5 separate regions of the Homo sapiens genome follow, and regions 1, 2, 4 and 5 are each linked to region 3. Evidence: fine-mapped expression QTL. A gene starts in region 3. Each other region holds a variant in brackets. All regions are shown on one strand. Distances are between the middles of the regions. Region 1 has its middle 7.1 kb from the start of TSR2. Region 2 has its middle 60 kb from the start of GNL3L. Region 3 holds the start of GNL3L (G protein nucleolar 3 like). Region 4 overlaps FGD1 (FYVE, RhoGEF and PH domain containing 1). Region 5 has its middle 87 kb from the start of GNL3L.

Evidence for each region.
Region 1: its variant is fine-mapped to the expression of GNL3L in lung (TOPMed, PIP above 0.99). The same link has a PIP of 0.9 or more in blood mononuclear cells.
Region 2: its variant is fine-mapped to the expression of GNL3L in whole blood (TOPMed, PIP above 0.99).
Region 4: its variant is fine-mapped to the expression of GNL3L in whole blood (TOPMed, PIP above 0.99).
Region 5: its variant is fine-mapped to the expression of GNL3L in whole blood (TOPMed, PIP above 0.99).

Annotation. Positions count from the first base shown.
Region 1 is chrX:54,430,743-54,435,846 of GRCh38, forward strand. No RefSeq gene overlaps it. Among named protein-coding and RNA genes, the nearest start is that of TSR2, 7.1 kb to the right of the region's middle. The variant C/T (reference allele first, on the strand shown) is at 2,932.
Region 2 is chrX:54,587,692-54,592,795 of GRCh38, forward strand. It overlaps a transcript of GNL3L not described here. Among named protein-coding and RNA genes, the nearest start is that of GNL3L, 60 kb to the left of the region's middle. The variant G/A (reference allele first, on the strand shown) is at 2,112.
Region 3 is chrX:54,527,729-54,532,832 of GRCh38, forward strand. It overlaps GNL3L (G protein nucleolar 3 like), which reads left to right and starts at 2,491. Exons shown (of 16, transcript NM_001184819.2): 1 at 2,491-2,691; 2 at 4,792-4,857. The coding sequence starts at 4,839. RefSeq lists enhancers at 1,892-2,412, 2,067-2,116, 2,567-2,626, 2,637-2,896.
Region 4 is chrX:54,461,692-54,466,795 of GRCh38, forward strand. It overlaps FGD1 (FYVE, RhoGEF and PH domain containing 1), which reads right to left. Exons shown (of 18, transcript NM_004463.3): 7 at 4,005-4,161; 8 at 3,760-3,898. Among named protein-coding and RNA genes, the nearest start is that of TSR2, 24 kb to the left of the region's middle. The variant C/G (reference allele first, on the strand shown) is at 2,355.
Region 5 is chrX:54,614,524-54,619,627 of GRCh38, forward strand. It overlaps a transcript of GNL3L not described here. Among named protein-coding and RNA genes, the nearest start is that of GNL3L, 87 kb to the left of the region's middle. The variant A/G (reference allele first, on the strand shown) is at 2,716.

The sequences.
Region 1 (5,104 bases), 97 kb before region 3:
GTACTCAGCTTGGGGAGCTTCTTCAGGGGCCTCTGGGGAAATCATTTTAGGGGTTTGGTCTAGAAACTGTTTGGGCCACCTGCTTTATGGTAGTCTGTCCAGAGGTTCAGGCACTGGTATACCTGAGATCAATCTCATTGTATTAGTCAGTCAGGAGCTCTGTCTGGATCACTCACTGTTGGGTGCTCAGCATGGGCATTCAGACTTTTTGTTTGTTTTGGTTTGTTTTGTTTTGAGATGGAGTCTTGCTCTGTCGCCCAGGCTGGAGTGCAGTGGAATGATCTTGGCTCACTGCAACCCCCGCCTCCCAGGTTCAAGTGATTCTCCTGCCTCAGCCTCTCAAGTAGCTGGGATTATAGGCGCACACTACCACGCCTGGCTAATTTTTTGTATTTTTAGTAGAGACGGGGTTTCACCATGCTGGCCAGGCTGGTCTTGAACTTCTGACCTCAAATGATCCACACGCCTCGGCCTCCCAAGGTGCTGGGATTACAGGCGTGAGCCACCGCACCCAGTGGCATTCACTCTCCTGAGAGAAGTCCGGGAGTTCCGAGTGAGTTCTGAGTGAGCTCAGGCATTGGCTCACTCAAGAGGGCTCAGCTGGCATCAGATGTGATTGCATGTAACAAAGAGACACCAAATAATGATGGCTTAAACAAGATAGAAACCTCTATTTTTCTTTTTTTGACACAGAGTTTCACTCTGTTTTGATCATTGCTCACTGCAGCCTAGACCTCCCGGGCTCAAGCAATCCTCCCACCTCAGCCTCCAGAGTAGCTGGGACTACAAGCATGTGCCATGCCGGTAAATTAGTCATATCTGCTTATTTTTTTAATTTTTTTTTTTTTGGTAGAGACAGGGTCTCCCTGTTGCCCAGGCTGGTCTCAAACTCCTGGGCTCAAGTGATCCTCCCACCTTGGCCTCCCAAAGTGCTGGGATTACAGGTGTGAGCCATCGAATCCGGCTCAAACCTTTTATTTCTCTTATGTAAAAGCAGTCCTGACCGGGCACGGTGGCTCACACCCTGTAATCCCAGCACTTTGGGAGGCCAAGGCAGGGTGCATCACAAGGTCAAGAGATCGAGACCATCCTGGCCAATATGGTGAAACCCTGTCTCTACTAAAAATACAAAAATTTGCCGGGTGAGGTGGCACGTGCCTGTAATCTCAGCTACTTAGTAGGCTGAGGCAGGAGAACCACTTGAATCCGGGAGGTGGAGGTTGCAGTGAGCCCGGATTATGCCACTGCACTCCAGCCTGGCAACAGAGTGAGACTCTGTCTCAAAAAAAAAAAAAAAAAAAAAAAAAGCAGTCCTAAGAAACTGCTCCTTTCTTCCATTAAATTTTTTTTTTTCAGATAGGGTCTCACTCTGTTGCCCAGGCTGGAGTGCAGTGGCAAGATCACGACTCACTGCAGCCTCGAACTCCCTGACTCAAGCACTCCTCCCACCTCAGCCTCCCAAGTGTAGCTGGGACTATAGGAGTGCACACCATACCCAGCTAATTTTTTGATTTTCTATAGACAGGGTCCCACCATGTTGCCCAGGCTGGTTTTGAACTCTTGGGCTCAAGCAATTATCCAGGATTCTTTGAGCCAAATTTGCCAAAGTATCCCTGCTGCACTCAGTTATTGGTAGTTTTTGGCACTCAGCTGATGGCAAGCAATGTCTGCGCAAATACAAGGGTGGATTTCAGAACAGCAGCTGGGGCCCTTGATTAAATTCATCCCCTGTAGCTTACGGTCTGTGAGATGAAGTCTCATGGCTACCATAGGTGCATACCGGTGGTTCCCTCTGGGGATTCCCTCTAGGGCTCATTTTGGGCTTTTTTTTTTTTGAGATGGAGTCTCGCTCTGTCACCCAGGCTGGAGTGCAGTGGCACAATCTCGGCTCACTGCAACCTCTGCCTCCCAGGTTCAAGTGATTCTCCTGCCTCAGCCTCCCGGGTAGCTGGGACTACAGGCAAGTGCCACCACGTTCAGCTAATTTTTTCACTTTTTTTTTTTTTTTTAAGACAGAGTCTCGCTGTGTCGCCCAGGCTGGAGTGCAGTGGCGCGACCTCAACTCACTGCAACCTCTGACTCCCGGGTTCAAGCAATTCTCCTGCCTCAGCCTCCCAAGTAGCTGGGACTACAGGTGCCCACCACCATGCCTGGCTAAATTTTGTATTTTTAGTAGAGATGGGGTTTCACCATGTTGGCCAGGCTGGTCTCGAACTCCTGACCTCAAGTGATCTGCCCGCCTCAGCCTCGCAAAGTGCTCCAATTACAGGCGTGAGCCACCATGCCCGGCCTTGGGCATGTTATTTCCAGGTTCAGATATTAGGTTTTCAGTCTGAGGGAAGCTGTTTCAGAACATGGGCTCAGTCTACACTTTCAGCAGGGGGGATGAGTTTGTGGCTTTAGTATGTGATGGGTCCTTCTGGGAACTCACCCTGGGCCCATTTGCAGGATATCAGTCCCAGTCCCCATACTCCTTCAAGGAGCTAAGTTTGGGGACTCAGTCCCGTGGCTCTACCTAGAGGCTCATTATGGGCATTATGGGGACATGACTTTAAGGTTAAGGGTTTACATGTTGATGGTTCACTCTTTTTTTTTTTTGAGACAGGGATCTGGCTCTGTCACCCATGCTGGAGTGCACTGCTGCCATCTCTGCTCATTGCAACCCCCGCCTCCTGGGCCCAAGCTGATCCTCCAACCTCAGCCTCCAGGGTAGCTTGGAGACCGCAGGCATGTCCCACCAAGTCCTGCTAATTTTTGTATTTTTTTCAGAGACAGGGTTTTGCCATGTTGCCCAGGCTGGTCTCAAACTCCTGGACTCAAGGAATCTGCCCAGATGGTTCACTCTTGAGACACTAATTCTAGTGTTTCAGTTGGGAGAGGATTTGATATGGGAGCCTGATATTTTCTCTGACATATGACTAAGCCTCTCAC[C/T]GAGTGAGTGCCAGTTTCAGAGCTCAGTCTGCTCAGGTATTGGAAGCCCAGTCTGGAGATTTTAGCCTGAGGTCAAGCCTAGGAGATACGGATGTGATGGCCTCACCCAGGGATGTCTGTCTGGTGGGCTCTGTCTTGGGATGCCAGGCTTGGTCCTAATCTGAAATTTTCTTTTCTTTCTTTTTTTTTTTTTTTTTTTTTTGAGACAGTCTCACTCTGTTGCCCAAGCTGGAGTGCAGTGGCGTGATCTCGGCTTACTGCAACCTCCACCTCCCGGGTTCAAGCAATTCTCCTGCCTCAGCCTCCCGAGTAGCTGGAACTACAGGCACGTGCCACCACGCCCGGCTAATTTTTGTATTTTTAGTAGAGACAGGGTTTCACTATGTTGGCCAGGCTGGTCTTGAACTCCTGACCCTGTGATTTACCCACTTTGGCCTCCCAAAGTGTTGGGATTACAGGCGTGAGCCACCGTGCCCGGCTGAAATTTTCTATCTGGAAGCATCCTCTGCACATTCAATGTGGTGGTTCAACCTGCATTTTAATCTTGGAGCTCAGTCTAGGGTGTCATACTGGGAGTTGAGTTTGGGATACATGGACTTATAAAGCATCATGCATAGAATTTTGGGGTGTCTGTGTCTTTCTTCCCTCCCGCCCTCCCTTCCTTCCTTTTTTTTTTAATTTTTATGGATTCTCACTCTGTTGCCCAAGCTGGAGTGCAGTGGTGCCATGTCGGTTCACTGCAACCTCTGCCTCCGGTTCAAGAAATTCCCTTGCTTCAGCCTCCTGAGTAGAGTAGCTGGGACTACAGGTGTGCACCATCATGCCCAGCTAATTTATGTATTTTTAGTAGAGACGGGGTTTCAGCATGTTAGTCAGGCTGGTCTCGCACTCCTGACCTCAGGTGATTGCCCGCCTTGGCCTCCCAAAGTGCTGGGATTACAGGCGTGAGCCACTGCACCTGGCCTGATTGCAATTTTAAAATTGGCAAACAAATACACAATTTGGAATGGTGTTTCTGTAATATTTTGATAACTGTATTTTAACATACTTGACTTCCTTTGTAAACCTATATTTTATTGTATGCATTTAAAAACATTATTCTGGGCTAGGCTCATGCCTGTATTCCCAGCACTTTCGGAGGCTGAGGGAAGATTACTTGAGCCCGGGAGTTTGAGACCAGCCTGAGCAACATAGTGAGAACCTGGTCTCTGCAAAATAAGTTTTTTTGTTTTTTTTGAGATGGAATCTGGCTCTGTCGCCCAGGCTGGAGTGCAGTGGCACGATCTCGGCTCACTGAAACCTCCACCTCCTGAGTTCAAGCGATTATCCTGCCTCAGAAATTTTAAAATAAAATAAAAACATTCTGTGAAGAGCTATATTGACTTTACCAGATTGCCGATGGGGGTTCAAGTCACAAAAAAGGTGAAGACGTTTGGTACTTAGGATACTCGGCCTTGGACTTCAGTCTCAAAGCTAAGGGTTCATTCAGAGGCCTTGGTTTGTTACATCCCAGAGAGGGACTCCATGTGTGGGGATATCTAGCAGGTCTATTCTCTCTGTGTATGTTTGAGGCCTCAGATTGTGGGAACTTCAACTGAGGTTTTCAATATCTTCATTTGGGCCTCTCTGAACTCAATCTACATTGCTGACTCTACAAAAAATGAGTCTCTGGAGCTACGGAGGAGGCTATGCCCCTGAGGTTCTCTCTCAGTCTGGAACTGCTCTTATTATCATCACACACCATGTTGCTTCCTGCCTCTGTGTATTTGCACACATTTTTCCCCTGCACAGAAGGCTCTTTCCTCCTTTCAGTAACACCTTCCACCCCCATACACACACACTCCCCCATCACCCAGCAAAATTCTACTCAAACTTTAAGAATCAGCTCACGTGTCATCTCCTCCGAGAGGCCTGCCACAGCCCCCAGGGCTGGGTCAGGGACCCTCTGCTGAACTCCCATGAGTCCCTGTGCTCCTTTCTCCCTGGGCATTGCACAGAGATAGATTTATCGTAGAACAAATCAATCTTAAGCATCAGGGCCCCACACTTGCACAGGCCACTTCCAGGTCTCTGGTTATTGAGCCTGGTCTATTTGAAGAATGTTTAAGATTTGTCGCTGTGCCAAGAGAAGTTAAAATAACCTGAAATCTTACAGCTCACATGTAAAAGAAAC
Region 2 (5,104 bases), 60 kb after region 3:
TTCTTTTTAGACGGAGTCTCACCCTGTCACCCAGGCTGGAGTGCAGTGGCACGATCTCAGCTCACTGCAACCTCTGCCTCTCGGGTTCAAGCGATTCTCCTGCCTCACCCTCCCGAGTAGCTGGGATTATAGGCACCTACCATCATGTCCAGTTAATTTTTGTATTTTTAGCAGAGATGGGGTTTCACCATGTTGGCCAGGCTGGTCTCGAACTCCTGACCTCAGGTGATCCTTCTGCCTCAGCCTCCCAAAGTGCTAGATTACAGGCGTGAGCCACTGTGCCTGGCCAGGGTTGTACTTTTAATTTCCGTTTCCACATGGTCGTTGCTTTTATATAGAAATATAATTGAGTTCTGTATGTTTATCTTGTAATCTGTGATTTTGCTAAACTCACTAATGTGTACTAGGAGATATTTTGGTAGCTATTTTGGGATTTTCTATGTAGATTATCATGTCCTCTGCAAATTTGGACAGCTTTATGTCTTCCTTTTCAATCTGTATGTCTCTTATTTCTTTTTCTTGCCTATTGCACAGCTAGAACTTCCAGTACAATGTTGAATAGAAGTGGTATGAGAAGACATCTTTGCTTTGTTCCATATCTTAGGGAAAAGCATTCAGTCTTTTACCATTTTTTGTAATGTTAGTTGTATGTTCGTTTTTAGATGCTCTTTGTGAAATTAAGAAAATATCCATCTATTACTATTTTTTCTGAGAGCTTAAAAATTCTCATTCATAGGTATTCAATTTTATCAAGTGCTTTTCTGCATCACTTGATATGATTATATGGTTTTTCTTTCACTTTAGTCTGTTGACATGGTAGATTCCACTGATGGATTACAAATATGGAACCAGGCCGGGTGTGGTGGCTCACGCCTGTAATCTCAGCACTTTGGGAGGCTGAGGCGGGTGGATCACTTGAGGTCAGGAGTTCGAGACCAGCCTGGCCAATGTGGTGAAACCCTGTCTCTACTAAAAATACAAAAACTAGCCAGGCGTGGTGGCACACGCCTATAATCCTAGCTACTTAGGAGGCTGAGGCAGGAGAATCATTTGAACCCGGAAGGTGGAGGTTGCGGCGAGCCAAGATCGCGCTACGGCTCAAAAAAAATAAAAAATAAAAAAAAGTGGAACCAGCCATATCGGCAATGCTTTAACTTTATTCCTCAAATTTTATTATGCTTTATTTTATTTTTTATTCAATTCAATTTTTTTGATATCCTTTTGAAATACTTCCTCTTTGACCCATGTATCATTTTCAAAATGGGTTGTTTAGTTTCCAAGTGTTTGAAGATATTCTTGTTATTTTTTGATACTGATTTTTTCTTTTTTTAATTTAAAAAATTTTTGTGCGTACATAGGTATATATGTTTATGGAATACATGAGATGTTTTGATACAGGCATGCAATGTGAAATGAACACATCATGGAGAATGAGGTATTCATCCCCTCAAACATTTATCCTTTGAGTTACAAACAATCCAATTACACTCTTTAAAATGTACAATTAAGTTATTATTGACTATAGTCACCCTATAAATAGACGGAAAAATAGTCTATTATTGACTATATTCACCCTATAAATAGTTAGATGGAAAAAATAGTCTAACTATCATTGACTATAGTCACCCTATAAACAGATGGAAAAATAGTCTTATTTTTTTTTGTCCCATTAACCATCCCTACTTCCCCTCCCAATCCCCCATTACCCTTCCCGGCCTCTGGTAACCATCCTACTCTCTATGTCGATGAGTTCAATTGTTTTGATATTTAGATCCTGCATATAAGTGAGAACATGTGATGTTTATGTTTTTGTGCCTGGCTTATTACACTTAACATAATGATCTCTAGTTCCAGCCATGTTGTTGCAAATGACTGGATCTCATTCTTTTTATGACTGAATAGTACTCCATTTTGTATGTGTACCACATTTTCTTTATCCATTCATCTGTATAGATACTTAGGTTGCTTCCAAGTCTTAGCTATTGTACACAGTGCTCCAACAAACATAGGAGTGCAGATATCTCTTCCTTATACTGATTTCCTTTCTTTTGTGTACATACCCAGCAGTAGGATTGCTGGATCATATGTTGGCTCTATTTTTAGTTTTTTGA[G/A]GAACTTCCAAAGTGTTCTCCATAGTGGTTGTACTAATTTACATTCCCATCAACAGTGTGCAAGGGTTCCCTTTTCTCCACATCTTTGCCAGCATTTGTTATTGCCTGTCTTTTGGTTACAAGCCATTTTTTTTTTTTATTAATTATTATTTTTTGAGACAGAGTCTTGCTCTGTCGCCCAGGCTGGAGTGTAGTGGTGTGACCTCGGCTCACTGCAACCTCTGCCTCCCAGGTTCAAGCGATTCTCCTGCCTCAGCCTCCCGAGTAGCTGGGATTACAGGCACGTGCCACCATGCCCAGCTAATTTTTGTATTTTTAGTAGAGACGGAGTTTCACCAGGTTGGTCAGGCTGGTCTTGAACTCCTGACTTTGTGATCCGCCCGCCTCGGCCTCCCAAAGTGCTGGGATTATAGGCGTGAGCCACCGCGCCTAGCCCACAAGCCATTTTAAATAGGGTGAGATGATATCTCATTGTAGTTTTGATTTGTATTTCTCTGATGATGAATGATGTTGAGCATCTTTTCATATACTTGTTTGCCATGTATATGTCTTCTTTTGAGAAATGTCTATTCAAATATTTTGCCCAATTTTGATCAAATTTTTAGTTTTTTTCCTGCATCAATTGATATGATTATATGATTTTTCTTGTTTAGTCTGTTGACGTGGTGGGTTCCATTGATGAAAGAGTTGTTTGAACTCTTTATATATTGTGATTATTTAATCTCTTGTCAGATGGGTAATTTACAAATAATTTTCTCCCATTCTGTGAATTGTCTCTTCACTTTGTTGATCATTTCCCTTGCTGTACAGAAGCTTTTTAACTTGATGTGATCCTATTTTTGCTTTGGTTGCCTGTACTTATTGGGTATTATTCAAGAAAATTTTTACCAGACCAATGTGCTTGAGATTTTCCCCAGTGTTTTATTGTAGTAGTTTCATAGTTTGAGGTCTTAGATTTATGTATTTATTTATTTATTTATTTAGGTCTTAGATTTATTTATTTATTTATTTATTTATTCATTCATTCATTCATTCATTCAGTCAGTCAGTCAGAGCCTTGCTCTGTCGCCCAGGCTGGAGTGCAGTGGCACGATTTCGGCTCGCTGCAACCTCTGCCTTCTGGGTTCAAGCGATTCTCCTGCCTCAGCCTCCTGAGTAACTGGGACTACAGATGCACACCACCACAGCTGGCAGATTTTTGTATTTTTAGTAGAGATGGGGTTTTGCCATGTTAGCCAGGCTGGTCTTGAACTCCTGACCTCAGGTAATCCACCTGCCTCTGCCCCACAAAGTGCTGGAATTACAGGCGTGAGCCACCGTCCCCAGCCTGAGGTCTTAGATTTAGAATTTAATGCATTTTGATTTGTTTTTTGTATATGGTGAGAGATTGGGGCCCAGTTTCATTCTTCTTCATATGGATATCCAGTTTTCCCAGCACCATTTATTGAAGAGACTGTCTTCCCCCCAGTGTATGTTTTTGGCACCTTTGTAAAAAATGAGTTCACTTAGGCGGGGCGCAGTGGCTCGCTCCTGTAATCCCAGTGCTTTGGGAGCCCAAGGCTGGCAGATCACTTGAGGTCAGGGGTTCGAGACCAGCTTGGCCAACATGACAAAACCCCATCTCTACTAAAAATACAAAAATTAGCTGGGTGTGGTGGCAGGCGCCTGTAGTCCTAGCTACTCAGGAGGCTAAGGCAGGAGAATCGCTTGGACCCGGGAGGTGGAGGTTGCAGTGAGCCCAGATCACACCACTGCACTCCAGCCTGGGTGACAGAGCGAGACTTTGTCTCAAAAAAAAAAAAAAAAAATTGAGTTCACTGTAGGTGTGTAGATTTGTTTCTGAGTTCTCTACTCTGTTCCTTTGGTCTATGTGTGTGTTTTTATGCTAGTACCATGCTGTTTTGGTTACTAAAGCTCTGTAGTATAATTTGAAGTCAGGTAATGGGATTCCTTCAATTTTGTGTTTATTTTGCTAAGGATAACATTGGCTATTCTGTGTCTTCTGTGGTTCCATATAAATTTAAGGATTTTTTTTTCTATTTCTGTGAAGAATGTCATTGGTATTCTGATAGAGATTGCATTGAATCTGTAGATTGCTTAGGGTTATATGGACATTTTAATAAAACTGAATCTTCCAATTCATGAACATGGAATATTTTTCAATTTTTGGTGTCCTCTTCAATTTCTTTTAACAGTGTTTTATAGTTTCCATTATAGATATCTTTCACTTCTTTGGTTAATTCCTAGGTATTTAATTTTATTTGTGGCTATTGTAGATGGGATTACTTTTTTTCATTTCTTTTTCACATTGTTCACTGTTGTCATATAGAAATGCTACTGATTTTTGTATGTTGATTTCGAAACCTGCTACTTTTCTGAATTTACCAGTTCTAATAGAGTTTTCTTGTGGAGTCTTTAGGTTTTTCCAACTATAAAACCATATCTCCTACAATGAAGAATAATTTGATGTCTTCCTTTCCAATTACAATGCCCTTTATTTCTTTCTCTTGTTTGATTGCCCTAGCTAAGACTTCCAGTATTATGTTGAATAACAGTGATGCAAGTGGGTATGCTTGCTGTGTTCCAGATCTCGCAGGAAAGGCTTTCAGTTTTTCCCCATTCAGTATGATACTAGCTGTGGGTCTTTTGTATATGGCTTTTATTATGTTGAGGTATGTTCCTTCTATACCCAATTTTGTAGAGTTTTTATCATGAAAAGATGTTGAATTTTGCCTGGGCGCAGTGGCTCATGCCTGTAATCCTAGCACTTTGGGAGGCTGAGGCAGGTGGATCGCTTGAGCCCAGAAGTTGGAAACCAGCCTGGGCCACATGGCAAAACCCTGTCTCTACAAAAAGTACAAAAATTAGCCAGGCATGTGGCAGGTGCCTGTAGTCCCAACTACTTGGGAGGTTCAGGTGGGAGGATCACCTGAGCCCAGGAGGTTGAGGCTGTGATGATTCGTGATCATGCCACACCACTCCAGGCTGGGTGA
Region 3 (5,104 bases):
CAGTTGAAGTTCCCTGTGTATCTCTCTCTCATTCTGTTCTTTTGTTTTCTTCCCCAGAGGTAATCAGTATTCTGGATTTGGTATTTCTCCTTAAAAATTATTGTTGGCTGGGGGCGGTGGCTCACACCTGGAATCCCAGCACCTTGGGAGGCCAAGATGTGGTTGGATCACTTGAGCTCAGGAACTCAAGATTAGCCTGGGCAACATGGTGAAACCCTGTCTCTACAAAAAATACAAAAATTAGCCAGGTGTGGTGGTACATGCCTGTAGTCCAGGTACTTGGGAGGCTGAGGTGGGAGGATGGCTTGAGTCAGGGAGGTGGAGGCTGCAGGGAGAGGAAATCAAGCCACTGCACTGCAGCCTGGACGACAGAGCAACATCTTGTCTGAAAAAAAAATTATTGTTTATATATCTATATAATCTATAAGCAACATTGTTTGCTGTTTTCTAGATTTTAAAACTTTATATAAATGGTTTCATACTTTATGTGTCCTCTGCAATTTGTATTTTATCTCAGTATTGTGTTTTTGAAATTTAGCTGGGTCAATGCATGCAACATGATTCATTCTTTTTCATTATAGTATTCTGCATAGTATTCTGTCATATGGCTATACCATAATTTACTTATTCATTCTCCTGTTGGTGGAATTTTGGGCTGTTCACATTTTTTTCTCTATTACAAACAGTTCTGCAATGAACATTCTTCCACATGCTCATTGAGCAAGTGTATAAGAATTTCTCTAGGAGTTAAAGTTTAGAGGTGATCTCTATCTATCTATCTACCTATTAATCAATCATCTCCAATACTAGAACTGCTGGGTCCCAGGGTCATCTTCAGCTATTCTGGATACTTCCTAATTGTTTTCCAAAGTCGTAATAACTAGTTTCCACAAGATTTCATTGTATTTTTTCCCTTATATCTTGTGCATTTGGGATTTTGTTTAAAAAGTCCTTCCCCAGTCACAAGTCACAAAGATATTCTCCTGCATATATTAACTTCATAGTTTTACCTTTCACATTCACAGTCTACCCTCTTAGGTGGAATAAATAGAGATCCAGTTTTATATTTCTTTTCATGGAGAGCCAAATTTCCCAATGCCATCTACTAAACAGCCCATTTCCCATTTTTTGTGGTGCAGGCCTGTAAACTCACCCATTTAACAAACAGTTGTTGAAGCCTGCCTCATACCAGTCTTGTGCTGGGTGTTGTTGAAAGCTTGAAGATACATGGCCCCTGCTCTCAGGGAGTTCACCCTCCTGTGGAGACACAGTCACATAAACAACTACAGTATTGTGATAAGTGCTAGCTTAGCTGTATAGGTAAGGTGCTCTGGGTTTCTAACTCATCTGCGAAAGTCAGAGAAGGTTTCATCGAAGTGACAAGAGTTAGGTCTTAGAGAAACAGAGCAAAATTGCAAATGCAGGGGGAAAGGTGAAAGTGGTCAGGGCTGGTTTCAGGTCCAGAGGAATTTCATGTGTCTCTAGGATGAGAGGTTAGAAGCCCTCCAACGATGTAGAGAGGTAGTGAGTCCTGTTTATGTAAGGGATAAAGGGACAGATGGAGTCATTTTCAGCCCGTCTGTGCTTGAAGTGGAGAAACAAACCCACCCTCGGAGGCACAGAGTTCCACCTACTCTGTGCCCCACCCCAGGGTTTAGGCTTGAGGAAGAGGAGGGGCTGGAATTAAACCATCAAGAAGAAAACATTTGCAGACTAATATTTACTATTTTGTGGGGGAGACCTCACTTCCCAGCCAGCTCCTTGAGATGGCTTCAGAAACCCCTACTTGCCCCACTCCAGAGATATAAATTCATTCCCTTCTGCAGACGCTGCTCCGGGATTGAGGGAAGGATGGAGTAGGAGGGGAAGAAGGCAAAAGGGTGGGAGAGGCTTCTAGTGTGGGAGAGGCTTCTAGTCGTTCTGGCTCCTGCTCCAGCTCGGGTTGGGTATGGCCATAGATCTGAACGTATGCAGAAAAAGCTAGGAGTGCTCAGGGATGGTCTGGGGCTCAAGGACCCGGGAAGGTGGTTGGGAATAGCTAACCAATTCACTTCAGGTGGGGAAATACTCGGCCAGACACGTGACCCAGGCGGCCATTTTCTCACACCCTGCTGTCGCCATCTTCCAGGCAGACAAAGACACCATCCCCCACCCTTGTCTGATTCGGGCGTGGTGACTGCCTGGTTATTGAGATTTGGGAGCACGCATATTTAACCCCAGACAGATGCCCGCAGACAAAATTTTGGCTTGCAAGTAAGGTATATGGCCGCACCAGTCGACCCGCCGCTTCTTCCCGGTCATTTCCCCGTCCTCCTTCTCCCTCCTCCGCTATTTCCTTAACTACGGGGCAGGCAGGAGGCGGGGCCAGCGTGGTCGCGAAGAAGGGACGGGCGGGCGTGAGCTGTCAGTCAGAAGCTCCGCCCCCCCCCCCCCCCCCCCGCGGAGACCGCACGGTGGGCGGAGTCGGGCGCCGCCGGCCTGGGATCCGGAAGTCGGAGCCTAGCTGCGCGAGAGTTTCTGCTCGCTCAACCGAGTTGTCGTGTTGCCCTCGCTTCTCAGATCCCCGCCGGAAGTGTAAGTAAGAAACTTCTCTCCTCTTTTCTCACAATGTGCGCTCACCTAGACGGCCGGGCAGTTAGGATCGTCTATTGGATGTGAAACCAGAGATGCCCGCCAACCTGGAATAGAGAGGTAAACAGCAGGATCCCTTCCAGGGTAGAAGGGACCGGAAGAGGGGCAGGGATCGCGGCACACGTGGAGACGCGCCGAATTGCCTTTTCGCGGAGTGGAGTTTGCCGGGAGAGGGGCATTGCCCCATCCCACCTAGAAAGGTGTAGACCCGGGACACACTGTGTAGAGAGGCACAAACTTCACTTGTGTGGTGAAGCGTTGATCGTCCTCAAGATAGTGAGGCTTCATTCTGCATTCACCTTGTATAGACAGGAGTCGACCCACCAAAGGCATGGGGGACATCCACCCCAACCGTGTAGAGACATCTCCCTCCACCCAGCTGAGCAGCGCAGACTTCTCCCGACTTAAGGCACTTCCTTGGCTTGGCTCTAGACAGCCGTCTCGAGGCACCTCCTCAGGACAGACAGAGGCTTTGATGTATCTGCCCCCATACCAGCATAGAGGAGCTTAGAAACATTTAATATACAGAGGGAGGGCACCTCCTCCCCATACGCGTAGACTCAGAGCCCTCAGTATCGCTCCCCAACTCACCCGTCCCCAAAGTGGTTGCAGTTACAGGCCTCAGCTTATGGACAACTAAGCCAATTGCCCCCTCCTCTTAGGTTAGAGTGAGTCCCCATTGTGGAGAATCAGACCTGATCCCTACTTCCGTAGCCCCCGTTTTACCGAATGTGTAATTTTTCGAAGCACCCAACATGCTTCGAAGCAAACAGGAACAGACCTTAATCCATGAAGAGACAGTCAGGTCTGCCCCTTGAGGGGCCGTGGGGGTAGAGGGGCTCAGATGTGTTCCTCTCCCTTTGAGGTAGACACAGATCATCCCCCTACCTCCCCCTACCTCCCCCAAAGATTTAGAATCACTAAATGTAGCAAGGGAGATACCCCACAGGAGCAGATATGCAGGTCTCCCTCCCTGTAATGTTGAGAGGGAGTGACATCGCTGATTACCTGGCAGTTCAGTGCGTATGGTCTCTCCCCTTTACCCAAGGTAGTGGAGCTCAGATCTGTTTCTCTCCACCCAGGGTAGAATCACAGACGCCCCCACCCCCAAGTATTAGGGCTGATCTATTAATTTATAGCTGCATTGCCAGCCCCCTCCACACACCACCCATGCAGAGAACCAGAGCCCCTATTTCTTTCAGTGTTAGTGTGCCGCTGACTTCAACCAGCATAAAAGATGAAAGTTGTCACAGTCCACCTTCCATAGAAGGGTCCAGAATAGCTCACTGCAGGTAAGGTGCAGACCCGCTTATTCAAAGCTGCATAGTTGTGGAATCAGGCATATCGATCCTGTACCACAGCCCTCTCCAGGGTGAAGAGACGCAGGACCCATCCCCACAATCTAGAGATAAACAGATCTGTGATTCTTTCCCCATGCAGCAGAGATGCACACAGCCACTTTGTGGGTTTCCCCAGTTTCTCTGCACCCCAGAGTAGAGGGACAGATGGCAATCCCCCCAACCCAAATCACCAAGGTATAGACCCCAGGCATATGCAGGCACAGATTTTTACCCCCTCCTCCAAGATTTTGTACTTATCTCAATCCATATAGACACTCAGGTAAGAATCCCTGTTCTCAGGCCCCTTTTCCCCAGGGTAGACTCCTGAGATCTATTTACGCCCTTCCCCACCACCTCTCCCAGGGTAGATGAGATATAGAATCCCCTACTTGGGAAAAGAGGCACTATTATCACCCCATATAGAAATAGACCATCCTTGCATGTCCCTTTCCCCTCAGTGTGGAGGTGTTGAGCACTAGTCCCCTACCTAGAATATAACACTACAGTGTGGAGGAATAAGGACCAAAGACCCCATCTGACCCCATTTGACCCCACTGGGCTCAAAGCCCAGTGGCTTTGAGCCACTGACTCCACCCCGGATGAGGTTGAGACCTATTCCTCCCTTTGGGTAGTATGACACTGCCTTCTCTGTGTGGACTCAGCCATATGAGGCTTTAGCTCCAGCTTCTCCCAGTTTTCCTAATTATTACGCCTTCCTCATAATGTTCTTTAACATTTTACCTTTAGGGGACTTAGGAGGGGGCTTGTGGCATTGTGATTCCCAGCTGTCTTCAAATTGCTTCTTCTCCCATTCTGACAGGAAGAGAGCAAGCAGATTTGAACCTATCTGCTTTCAAGCTGGTCATCATGATGAAACTTAGACACAGTGAGTTTCCTTTACCACCCCTCCCAATCCTGTGCTTTTAATGAATATTCATAGAATTTCACAGCAACTTTTTGTTTTTTTGGTTTTTGTTTTGAGATGGAGTCTCGCTCTGTCACCTAGGCTGGAGTGCAGTGGTGCAATCTCAGTTCACTGCAACCTCCGCCTCCCGGTTTCAAGCATTTCCTGCCTCAGCCTACCGAGTAGCTGGGATTATAGGTGTGTGCCACCATGCCAGGCTACTTTTTGT
Region 4 (5,104 bases), 66 kb before region 3:
GGAATCTCTGTCTGGAGCTCAGTCTGGGCTGCTGAATTTCAGGGTTCCCTCTGGGGAACTCAGAGAATCCAGTCTTGGGGCTCAGTGGGGCTTCAGTCTGTAGGATGGACCTGGAGAGTCAGTCTTTTAAGTTCAGGCTGAAAGTTTCAGTCTGAGGGATATGAAATAGGAGAATTAATCTAGGGTGCTCAGTTTGGCAATACTTGTCTATAGAATGGTGGCCAAGGAGATCAGACTGGGAAGCTCTTTTGGGGACCTCAAGCTGAAGGCTCTCACTGGGAACCCACTCTCAGGGCTCAGTGTGGGAAGAGTATTCCAGGTGGGAAGAGGCCCAGTCTGGGGATCTTAGTTTGAGAAACCAGTGTTGGGATCTATAACTGGGACCTCAGAATGGGCTTAGTATGAAGGTTCAGTTTGGAGATGTCAGTCCATAGGGCCCATCCCAGACAATCAGTCTGGAAGGCCCTTTCTAGAAGTTTAGGCTGGCACCTCAGTGAGGGCTCTTTTTCAGCAGGAGGAATGAGGTACTTACTTATGCTGCAGATGTCTGCTTGTAGAGCTTAGCTATTAAACTTTCTAGAGGCCTAGTTCTTTCTAGGGGTCCAGGCTTGGTAGCAAAGTGCCCCATCTGGCAGGGTGGAGAAGGCTCAGTTTGGGAAGCGGACACAGCAGTGGACACAGCTGTCCACTTCCCATTCTTTTTTTTTTTTTTTTTTTTTGAGATGGAGTCTCACTCCGTGGCTCAGGTTGGAGTGCAGTGGCACGATCTTGGCTCACTGCAGCCTCTGCCTCCCGGGTTCCAGCGATTCTCCTGCCTCAGCCTCCAGGGTAGCTGGGATTACAGGCACGGCCACCACGCCTGGCTAATTTTTGTATTTTTAGTAGAGATGGGGTTTCATCATCTTGGCCAGGCTGGTCTCAAACTCCAGACCTCAGGTGATCTGCCCGCCTCAGCCTCCCAAATTGCTAGGATTATAGGCGTGAGCCACCACGCCCGGCCTCGAACCCCATTCTTATGGCTTTTAGGACCCCACACTTTCTTGGTTTTCTTCCTACCTTTAGGGCTGCTCCTTCTTTTTTTTTTTTTTTTTGAGATGGGGTCTTGCTCTGTCACCCAGGCTGGAGTGCAGTGGCGCCACCTCGGCTCACTGCAACTTCTGCCTCCCGGGTTCAAGTGGTTCTACTGCCTCAGCCTCCTGACTAGCTGGAATTACAGGCGTGCACCATCATACCTGGCTAATTTTTGTATTTTCAGTACAGACAGGGTTTCACCATGTTGGCCAGGCTGGTCTCGAACTCCTGACTTTGTGATCCACCTGCCTCAGCCTCCAAAAGTGCTGGGATTACAGGTGTGAGTCACCGCGCCCAGCCTAGGGCTGCTCCTTCTAAGTCTCCTTTGGTGATTCCACATCCCTGAGCTTTGTCCTTGGCCCCCTTTCCCCTCCTTTTACACTCACTCCCTTTGGTGATCTTGGCCAGCCTTATGGCTTTGGAATACTATCTATGTGCCAATGACATCCAAATCTCTCCCTGAAATTCTAGATTCATCTAACTGCCTGACTAGCAGCTCACTTTGAACATGTCCAAAGTCAGACTCCTAAGATCATCTCAGGAACCATCACCACCAGCCAAAAACCTTTAAGTCATTCCTGACTCTTGCTCCCAAGCCCAGCATCCACTCCACCCTAGTCCTCTCAGTGCTGCTTCTGAAAAGAATGTATCCTGAATCCAACCATTTCTCACCGATTCTACTGCTACTGTCCTCATCCAAGCCAACTTTTCTCACTTGGATTATTGCAAAAGGCTTCTAACTGATCTCTCAGCTCTCTCTCTCTTGCTCCCCAAGTAATCATGATCGAAACCTTCCCATGGCTACCCACCATACTCAGAATAAAATCCATCTCCTTATCTTGGCCTTCAGTCTTTGCTCCTCTCTCCAACCTCATTTCTACCATTCTACTCTTATTTGTCATGTTCAGGTCACACTGACCTTCTTCCTGATCCAGAGATATGCAACCTGTCCAGCACCCCACCTCCCCTAATATCTCCCCTTGCCTTGGACCCTATACTTGCTGTGGCCTCTGCCTGGAACATGCTCAACCCCAACAGGCATGTGCCTACCTTCTTTTTATTCAGGTTTTGACTCACTGTCTTCTAGTCAGACAGGCCACCCAATCTCAAGTAGGCTCTCCAGCCACTGTCATGCCACCCTCTTCTAATTCTCTGAATTATACTCAGCACCTATCTAATATTCTACTGTGTATTTATTTACTTATTTATTTATTCTTGAGATGGAGTCTCGCTCTGTCACCCAGGCTGGAGTGCAGTGGCTCAATCACAGCTCAATGCAACCT[C/G]TGCCTCCCGAGTTCGAGTGATTCTCCTGCCCTGGCATCCCGAGTAGCTGGAATTACAGGCACCCACCACCACGCCCAGCTCTTTTTTTTTTTTTTTTTTTTTTTGAGAAGGAGTCTCGCTCTGTTGCCCAGGCTGAAGTGTAGTGATGCAATCTTGGCTCACTGCAAACCTCCACCTCCTGGGTTCAAGCAATTCTCCTGCCTCAGCCTCCCAAGTAGCTGGGATTACAGGTGCCCGCCACCACGCCCAGCTAATGTTTGTATTTTTAGTAGAGACGGGGTTTCACCATGTTGGCCAGGCTAGTCTCAAACTCCTGACCTCAGGCGATCCCCCGGCCTGGCCTCCCAAAGTGCTGGGATTACAGGCGTGAGCCACTGCGCCCGGCCTCTACTGTGTGTTTATTATTTTTGTTTACTGTGTCTCATTGCTGACTAGAATATATGCTCCCTGAGATCAAGGACCTTGTCTGTTTTGTTCACCTCTATATCCCCAGTACCTAGAACAATGCACAAAAACATGGAGGTGCTCAGTAAGTAGCTGTTAAACTAATGAATGAATGAATGAATGAAAATCTGGGGAAGAGAAAGTGGGGTAGGCGGGGGGAGCTCTATCTGGGGTGTGGGGTTCAGGTTGATACTGGAGGAATCGGGATAGAAGACTTTTCTAGTGGTTCAATGTGTAAGGATTCAGTCTGGGGAGGAGGTATCTCAGCCTAGAGATCCAAATTTGAGAGGTGGAAAATTTGGGGTCCAGTCTAGGGTGCTCAATTTGGAGGTTCTTTTGGGAGGTTCATTCTGGGTAGTGGCTGGCGGACATGGAGGAAAGCTCTAAATCTGGAGGATGGAAAATTGATGAGCCAGGGCTCTTTCTGGGGAGCTCAGCTGTGGAGATTCTGTGATGTGGGCTTGGCCTGAGGGGTCAGTCTGGCCTCTCAGCTTGGTGGCTCAGTCCCTGAGGTTTCAGGCTCAGTTTCCTTTCTCATTTGGTACAACTTCATTTGGGGGTGAGTCTAGGGGTCAGCCTTGGGGTCTCGATCTAGGAAATGGATGAGTTCCTTTAGGGGATCATAATGGGCATGCCACTCAAACTCTGGGGTTCCAGTTGGGAAGTTCAGGTTGGGGATCTCCTTCTGAATGTTCTCTACAGGTATTCAGGCAGGGGTCTCAACTTAGAGGTCCCTGCCTGAATACCCAAAGAGAACATTCAGAAGGAGGATCTCATCCTGGGGTCTCACTTCAGAACCTCAATGTGGGCCTTTCAGTTTGGAGATTCTCCTCTGGGATTTCAATCATGTGGCAATGGAAGGCCGACCCTGTGAATTAAGTCTTGGGGTCCTGCCTCAGAGGTCTGGCCTAGAGCTATTAGTGTGGAGAAGTAGGAAGGGGCCTGGGTGCACACACTCACTTTGGGCATCCTTGCTGTCCGGGGAGCCATGGGGCAGCTTTAACAGATAGTCCTTGAGAAGAAGCTCATAGCGGGGGATGCGCTGCACAGGCTCCAGCATGTGGTGCTGCAATGTCAGGTTGCCACAGGCTTCCTCCTTCTGTGACAGGCAGAAGCAGAGGGGCTCAGATCTGGCTGCAGATGCCCCACCACATCCCTGCAGACCTCTCCTCCCCAAGTCTGCTCCTTCCAGCTTGACCACTTACCTGCACCTCATGGATGATGACTTTAAACTGGGTGGAGCGCTCTGTCCAGGTGTTGACCAGCTCCACGGCCCGGTCAAAGTTCTTCACATACTCACCATACATCTTGAGGAAGGGGGCCAGTTTCTGCAGGATGTCTCCAATGCGTGGATAGCGGTCCCTGGGGTGGAATTAGGGGCTGATGTGGTCCTGCTGCTCTTTGCCCCTCAGAAACTTCCCCCACAAGTTTCCAGCCCCAGGCAGATACCTTTCATCTCAGTCCTAGAAACCTACTTCTCAGCTAGTCTGCTCCTTCAGAAATGCTGCTTACATTACAGGCCAGTGAGGCCAAGAGGCTCGGCTTGACTTCAGACCACAGCCTGGGATGCCACCTGCCTCAATTCTGCCCTGCCCGAGTACTGGTTGAAGTACTCACCCTGAGACCTTACTGCCAGGACCACTTCATATACTGATTATCAACTGTGTGCTGGGTGATGCTGGGGACACAGAAATGAGTCACACCCATTTGAGCCCTGAGAGGGTCACCATCTGGTAGGTGAGACAAAGAGACCAGGCCTGGTTGTACTCCTCATTGGTCAGTCTGGTGCAGGAGCAAAGCAAACCAGACCTGGTCCCAGCCCTCAGGGTTCACAGACTCGTGGGGAGATATAGGAACCAGGCTTCATGCTGGCTTTCTGTGGTCACAGTCTGGTGAGGGGGACACACTTGACTCTGTAGGTGTGGAGAATCTGTAGGTATGGGGAATGTGGACATGATTTTAAGCAGGGAGAGACATGGTCTGACTTGTTTAGAGAGACCGTTCTGGCAAATGGTGTGGACTCTAAAGGCTGGATTGGAAGAAGGCCTGAGAGGCTGCCTGTAAACCTTGCCCTTCTACCTCAGGACTCAGCTTAGGCATCACCTTCTCCCTGAATCCTTCTGTAATCTCCAAGCTAGGCTTGGTCCATTTGTCTGGATTCCCACAGCCTCCCATTCTCTGCTCTATCATAGCACTGTAAAAATAACAAAAGCTTACATCCATTGAGCACTTACTGTATATATCTGGTACTGTTTTGTTTGTTTGTTTTTTTTTTTTTTGAGAGAGTCTTGCTCTGTTGCCCAGG
Region 5 (5,104 bases), 87 kb after region 3:
ATCCCGCTGGATCCCTGTGGTGCCAGGCAGGAATAGCCTGTGAGGGGACGCAGCCAGCTCCCCGGGCCTTTCTGCTGCTTCCTCTACCCCTATATTTCGCTCGGCTCTCTAAATTGACTCAACTCCAGGTAAAGTCAGAAACTTGTCCTGCAAACAGAACTTCAGCTTCTCCAATGGGAGTGTGTGTTCAGGAGAGGAGGGTCTCCCTTTCCCATTTCCGCTGTTCGGGCGCTCACAGTATTTGGGGCGTCTCCTGGGTCCTGCAGGTGCAGTCTGCTTCCTTCAGAGGGTCTTTGGGTCCTCTTGGGATTGCTTGGGATTCTTGCAGTTGATCTGGAGCTGAAATTTACAACGTGAGCTTCCACCAACTGCTCTGTCCAGAGCTGCAATCTAATCTTGCCCTCCGTCCGCCATGATTGCCAAACACCTGAAACTAGTTTAAAGTGTCCTCTTCAGTGGCATTACTGTGCGACTACTCCATCTATCTAGTTTCACAACATTCTCATCACCCCAAAAGAAAACCCTATTACCATCAAGAAATCAATTCCCATTTCTCACTTCCACAGCATCTGGAAACTACCAATCTACATTCTTTTTCTATGCATTTATCTGTTCTGAATACCTCATATTAAATAGAATCATTAAATATGTGACCTTTTGTGTTTAGCTTCTTTCACTTAGCATAATGATTTTGTGGCTCATCCATGTTGTAGCATGTATCAGTTTTTCATTCCTTTTCATGGCTGAATAATATTTCATTGTAAGTAAATACCACAATTTGTTTCTCCATTCATATGTTGATGGACATTTGGGCTCTTTCCACCTTTTAGCTATTGTGAATAGTGTTGCTATGAACATACAGGTACATGTATTTGCGTACTAGTTTTCATTTCTTTTGGGTAAATACCTAGGAGTGGAATTGCTGGGTCATATGGCAACTCCATGTTTAACTTTTAGAGTAACTGTCAAACTGTTTTTCACAGCACCTTATATGTATACTTTACAATAAAAAATTTTTAAAAACCCAATAAAAGGCTGGAGATGTTAATGGAGTTAACTGGAGACGAAGTCTTCCCCTTTATCTCTACTAAGTATTTCCACCTCTGCTTTTCATCTAGTCTGTGCATTTTCTTTACCTTCGAAAACAGATGAAGGGAATTTTCCCAGAAGCCAGTACTTGCTTTTTTTTTTTTTTCCCTAAGACAGAGTCTCACTCTGTTGCCCAGGCTGGAGTGCTGTGGCGTGATCTCAGCTCACTGCAATCTCTGCCTCCCGGGTTCAAGCGATTCTCCTGCCTCAGCCTCCCGAGTAGCTGGGATTACAGGCGCCCACCACCACTCCCAGAAGCCAGTACTTCTGAATCCCAGGAGAAGCCTGTGTCAACAGCTTTTCTGAAACCTGGGAAATGTAACTGAAAAAGTAAAATATTTCCAGTAAGCATTTGTTATGTGCCAGGCAGTCTGTTAGCTGTTTCACGGATGTCATCACTTTGAAACTAATCAACTCTCCTGTGATTTTAATATTATCATGGTTTCAGTTTGTCTCTCTTGTGGTATCTAGCACAGAGCTGGAGGAACTCATTGAATGATATGGCTGGATAGGCAAGAGGTGGTGAATAAGAGGTTCAGTGTTCTCTGGGCACAGTGAGAAGGCCTGGCAAGGGCAGTGCCCGCCATATGGGCGCCACAAGCAGGCTACAGAAAGGGTTCTTCTTCAAACTGATATTCTTTAAATATTTGTTCAGCATTTATTTGGCAGGAGAAAGGAAAAACCAATTTTTTTTTAATAAAAATTGCATACCTTTCTGGATGTTCAAAATAAGGAACATATTATATGCACCAAACTTAGCATAATATTTTAACTTATTTGGAATTGCCTTTCATTTCATGGTTTTTCCATTTCTTGTAATTGGAGTGTGTTAGTCACTCACACTCACTAAGGGGAAAAGTAACTAACTGCCCATGGATAGAGACAGGAAGTCTTGTTTAAATATATTTGAAAAGTCTTTTGGCAAAATTATTTCTACTTTTAAGTAGTTTTTGTTCCCGTTTTAGTTTTTTCCCCCCCTGAACCTAACAACTCCTTAACAGGCACATTAAAATATTTTTATTTTGATAATAAACTGGATGACTTGTTGTAGACAGCCTTACACTGTGCATTTTTCAGTTTTAGGCTTTGAGAGTAAGGCTACTGCTGACCCTGGCTCCTTCTCCCCAAGTCAACTGGATAGTGTTAGCCTCAGGGCCTGGGGGGTATGAATGTGCACAATTGCAAAAATATTCCATAAATAGTATGAGCTTGTAAGGGGTTTGTTACTATTGTGTTTATTTCCATGTCAGTTAACTTTGGTAGAGAGGATGGGACCAATTTTTGCTTCACCAGTTAGTTGAGAAGTTTCTTATAGAAATCTGAGTTAATTAGCATAGATTTAATCCCATGATATTGTTTCCTTTTGTGTAGTGGGAAGCAACTGGCTAACTGGTCCACTACTTAAACTGGCTTGTTATTTGTGTGGGAAAAGGAAAAGGTCATTCTTAACCAAGAAGGAGGCTGTTCTTTAGATTTCAAGTCCATGTGCCAAGAATCTGGGGAAAGAGAAAACTTCTGTGCTTGTGCCTGGATCCCATCCTCTTCTGTTTCTTTAGCTACTTCACCAATTATCCCTTTCTTTTCAGAAGTTTCAACTTACCTTCTATTAGCATTGGAGGATGTTCA[A/G]TATTTTTCCATTGGAAAAAGGAAACCCACATCCCTTTGGCTACTTCCCCATAAGCCTTCTCCTTCACACAAAACAATTTCTTGAATGAGTTGTTCACACTTACGTTTCCTCACCTTTTACCCACTCATCAACCCACTGTGATTTGGCTTTTCCCTCTGCCCTCTACTATAATTGCATCTACCACCATCAACCAACTATCTCTTACTTGTTAAATTCAGTGGCTTTTAGCTGTGTTTTCTCTCTCCTTAATTTGTCACCACATTTATCTCTGTTGACAATTTTCCCCCCGCTAGAAACTTACTCTGGCTTTCAGAAACTTCTCTGGTTGCTGGGGTCTGAATGTGTACTCCCTTCCCGCAAATTCATATGTTGAAACCTAACCTCCAAGGTGATGGAATTAAGAGGTATAGCCTTTGGGAGGTGATTAAATAATGAGGAGACCTCATAAATGGGATTAGTACCTTTATGAAAGAGGCCTGAAGGATCTTGTTTGCCCCTTCCACTGTGTGAGAACACAGCTAGAAATCACCATCTATGGGGAATGAGCCCTCACCAGACACTGAAATTGTCAGCAGTTGGATCTTGGACTTCTACACCTTCGGACCTGTAAGAAATACGTTTCTGTTATTTATAAGCTATCCAGTTTATGGTATTTTGTTGTAGCAGCCCAAACAGACTAAGACACTGATTCTCCCACTATTCCAATGGGTCTCTTTCAGTCTTCTTCATGGGCCTTTCTCAGTCTCTTTTATATATTCTTTTCCTTCCTATTCTCTAAATTTGAGTACTTTAAAAAAATTTAGCTCTCAGTTAAAAAAAATCTCATTTATTCCCCTGGCTTTCCCATGCTGGAGAGGCCACATATAGGAGCTGGCTTCAGTTATCATCTGTATGCTGATGGCTCCTAGATCTTTCCCTTTTGCTCATTCCTCCCTCTTGAGCTCTAGACATTTATATTTGAAGGCCTCCTGATTATCTGCCCCGGCAGTCTTGCAAGTATCTGAAACTCAACATATATTAAACTCTGCTTATCATCTTCATCCCCCTAGTCCTTCTAAACTTGCTCCTCCTCCTGGCTTTCCCAAGTCAGCAAATAGCCCCTCTGTCTGCTCAGTTATCCAAACAGAAACTTGAGCATCAGCCTAGAGTCAGCCCTTTCCTTCGAAGTCTTACGAATTCTCTCTTTTCAACAGATCCATGTTCTAGGTGATGTGGTAATCTTGCCTCTAGTCATTTTCCCTACAGTAAGATTGATCTTCTTGGAGTCTAGTTCTGATCACATGACTTCCATGCTCAAAAATAAGCACTAGATCACAATAGAAAAATGGATAAAGAACACAAATAGACAATTCCCAGAAGAAACACAAATGGACTGGGCTGGGCATGGTGGCTCATACCTGTAATCCCAGTGCTTTGAGAGGCTGAGGCAGGAGGAGTTGGAGCCCAGGAGTTGGAGACCAGGCTGGGCAACATAGTGAGACACCATCTCTGCAAAAAAATTTAAAAAAATTGCCAAACATGGTGACATACACCTATCATCCCAGCTACTTGGGAGGCTGAGTCAGGAGGATCTCTTGAGTCCAGGAGTTCAAGTCCATAGTGAGCTATGATTGTGCCATTGCACTCCAGCCTGGGTGGCAGAGTGAGACCCTGTTTTTAAAAAAAACCCACAAATGGGCAATAAATATCTAAGAAGGGGCTCAATCTCACTTATAATAAAAATTAAAGCACCATGATACCAGTCTTCACTTGCCAGATTTGCTAAAACCTAGGGTTAGTGAGGGGAAATGGACACTCATACACAGATGGTGGGAGTGTAAACTGGCAGAACCTTTTGGAGGCAATTTGGCAGCATGTATCAGAATATTAAGCATGTATACCCTTTGATGCACTTTTAGATTTTATTCTACAGAAATACACAAGTATATATATATACAAAGACATTTATTACATTATTGTTCACAATAAGGAATTGGAAATAATCGAAATATCAACAATGAAATTATTAAATAAGTAATGGTATATACAATATATACATAAAAGATTACTAAGCTGCTTTTAAAAATAATAAAGTATCTGTTTAACACGACATGGAAAGATGATGACAATTTATTAAGCAGAAAGAGAAAGTTTCACAATAGTGTATTAATCTCATTTCTGTAAATAATTATTTTTTGTATATATATAAAAACTTTTGGAAATATAGGTACAAACATTAACTGCGGGAGTAGGAGTTACAGGAGTAGGGAGGATGGGGGCTTATACATTCTGTTTTGCGCAATTTTTTTTTTTAATTTTTAAAGACAAGGTCTCACTGTATTGCTCAGGCTGGTCTTGAACTCCTGGGCTCAAGCAATCCTCTTGCCTCGGCCTTCCAAAATGCTGGGA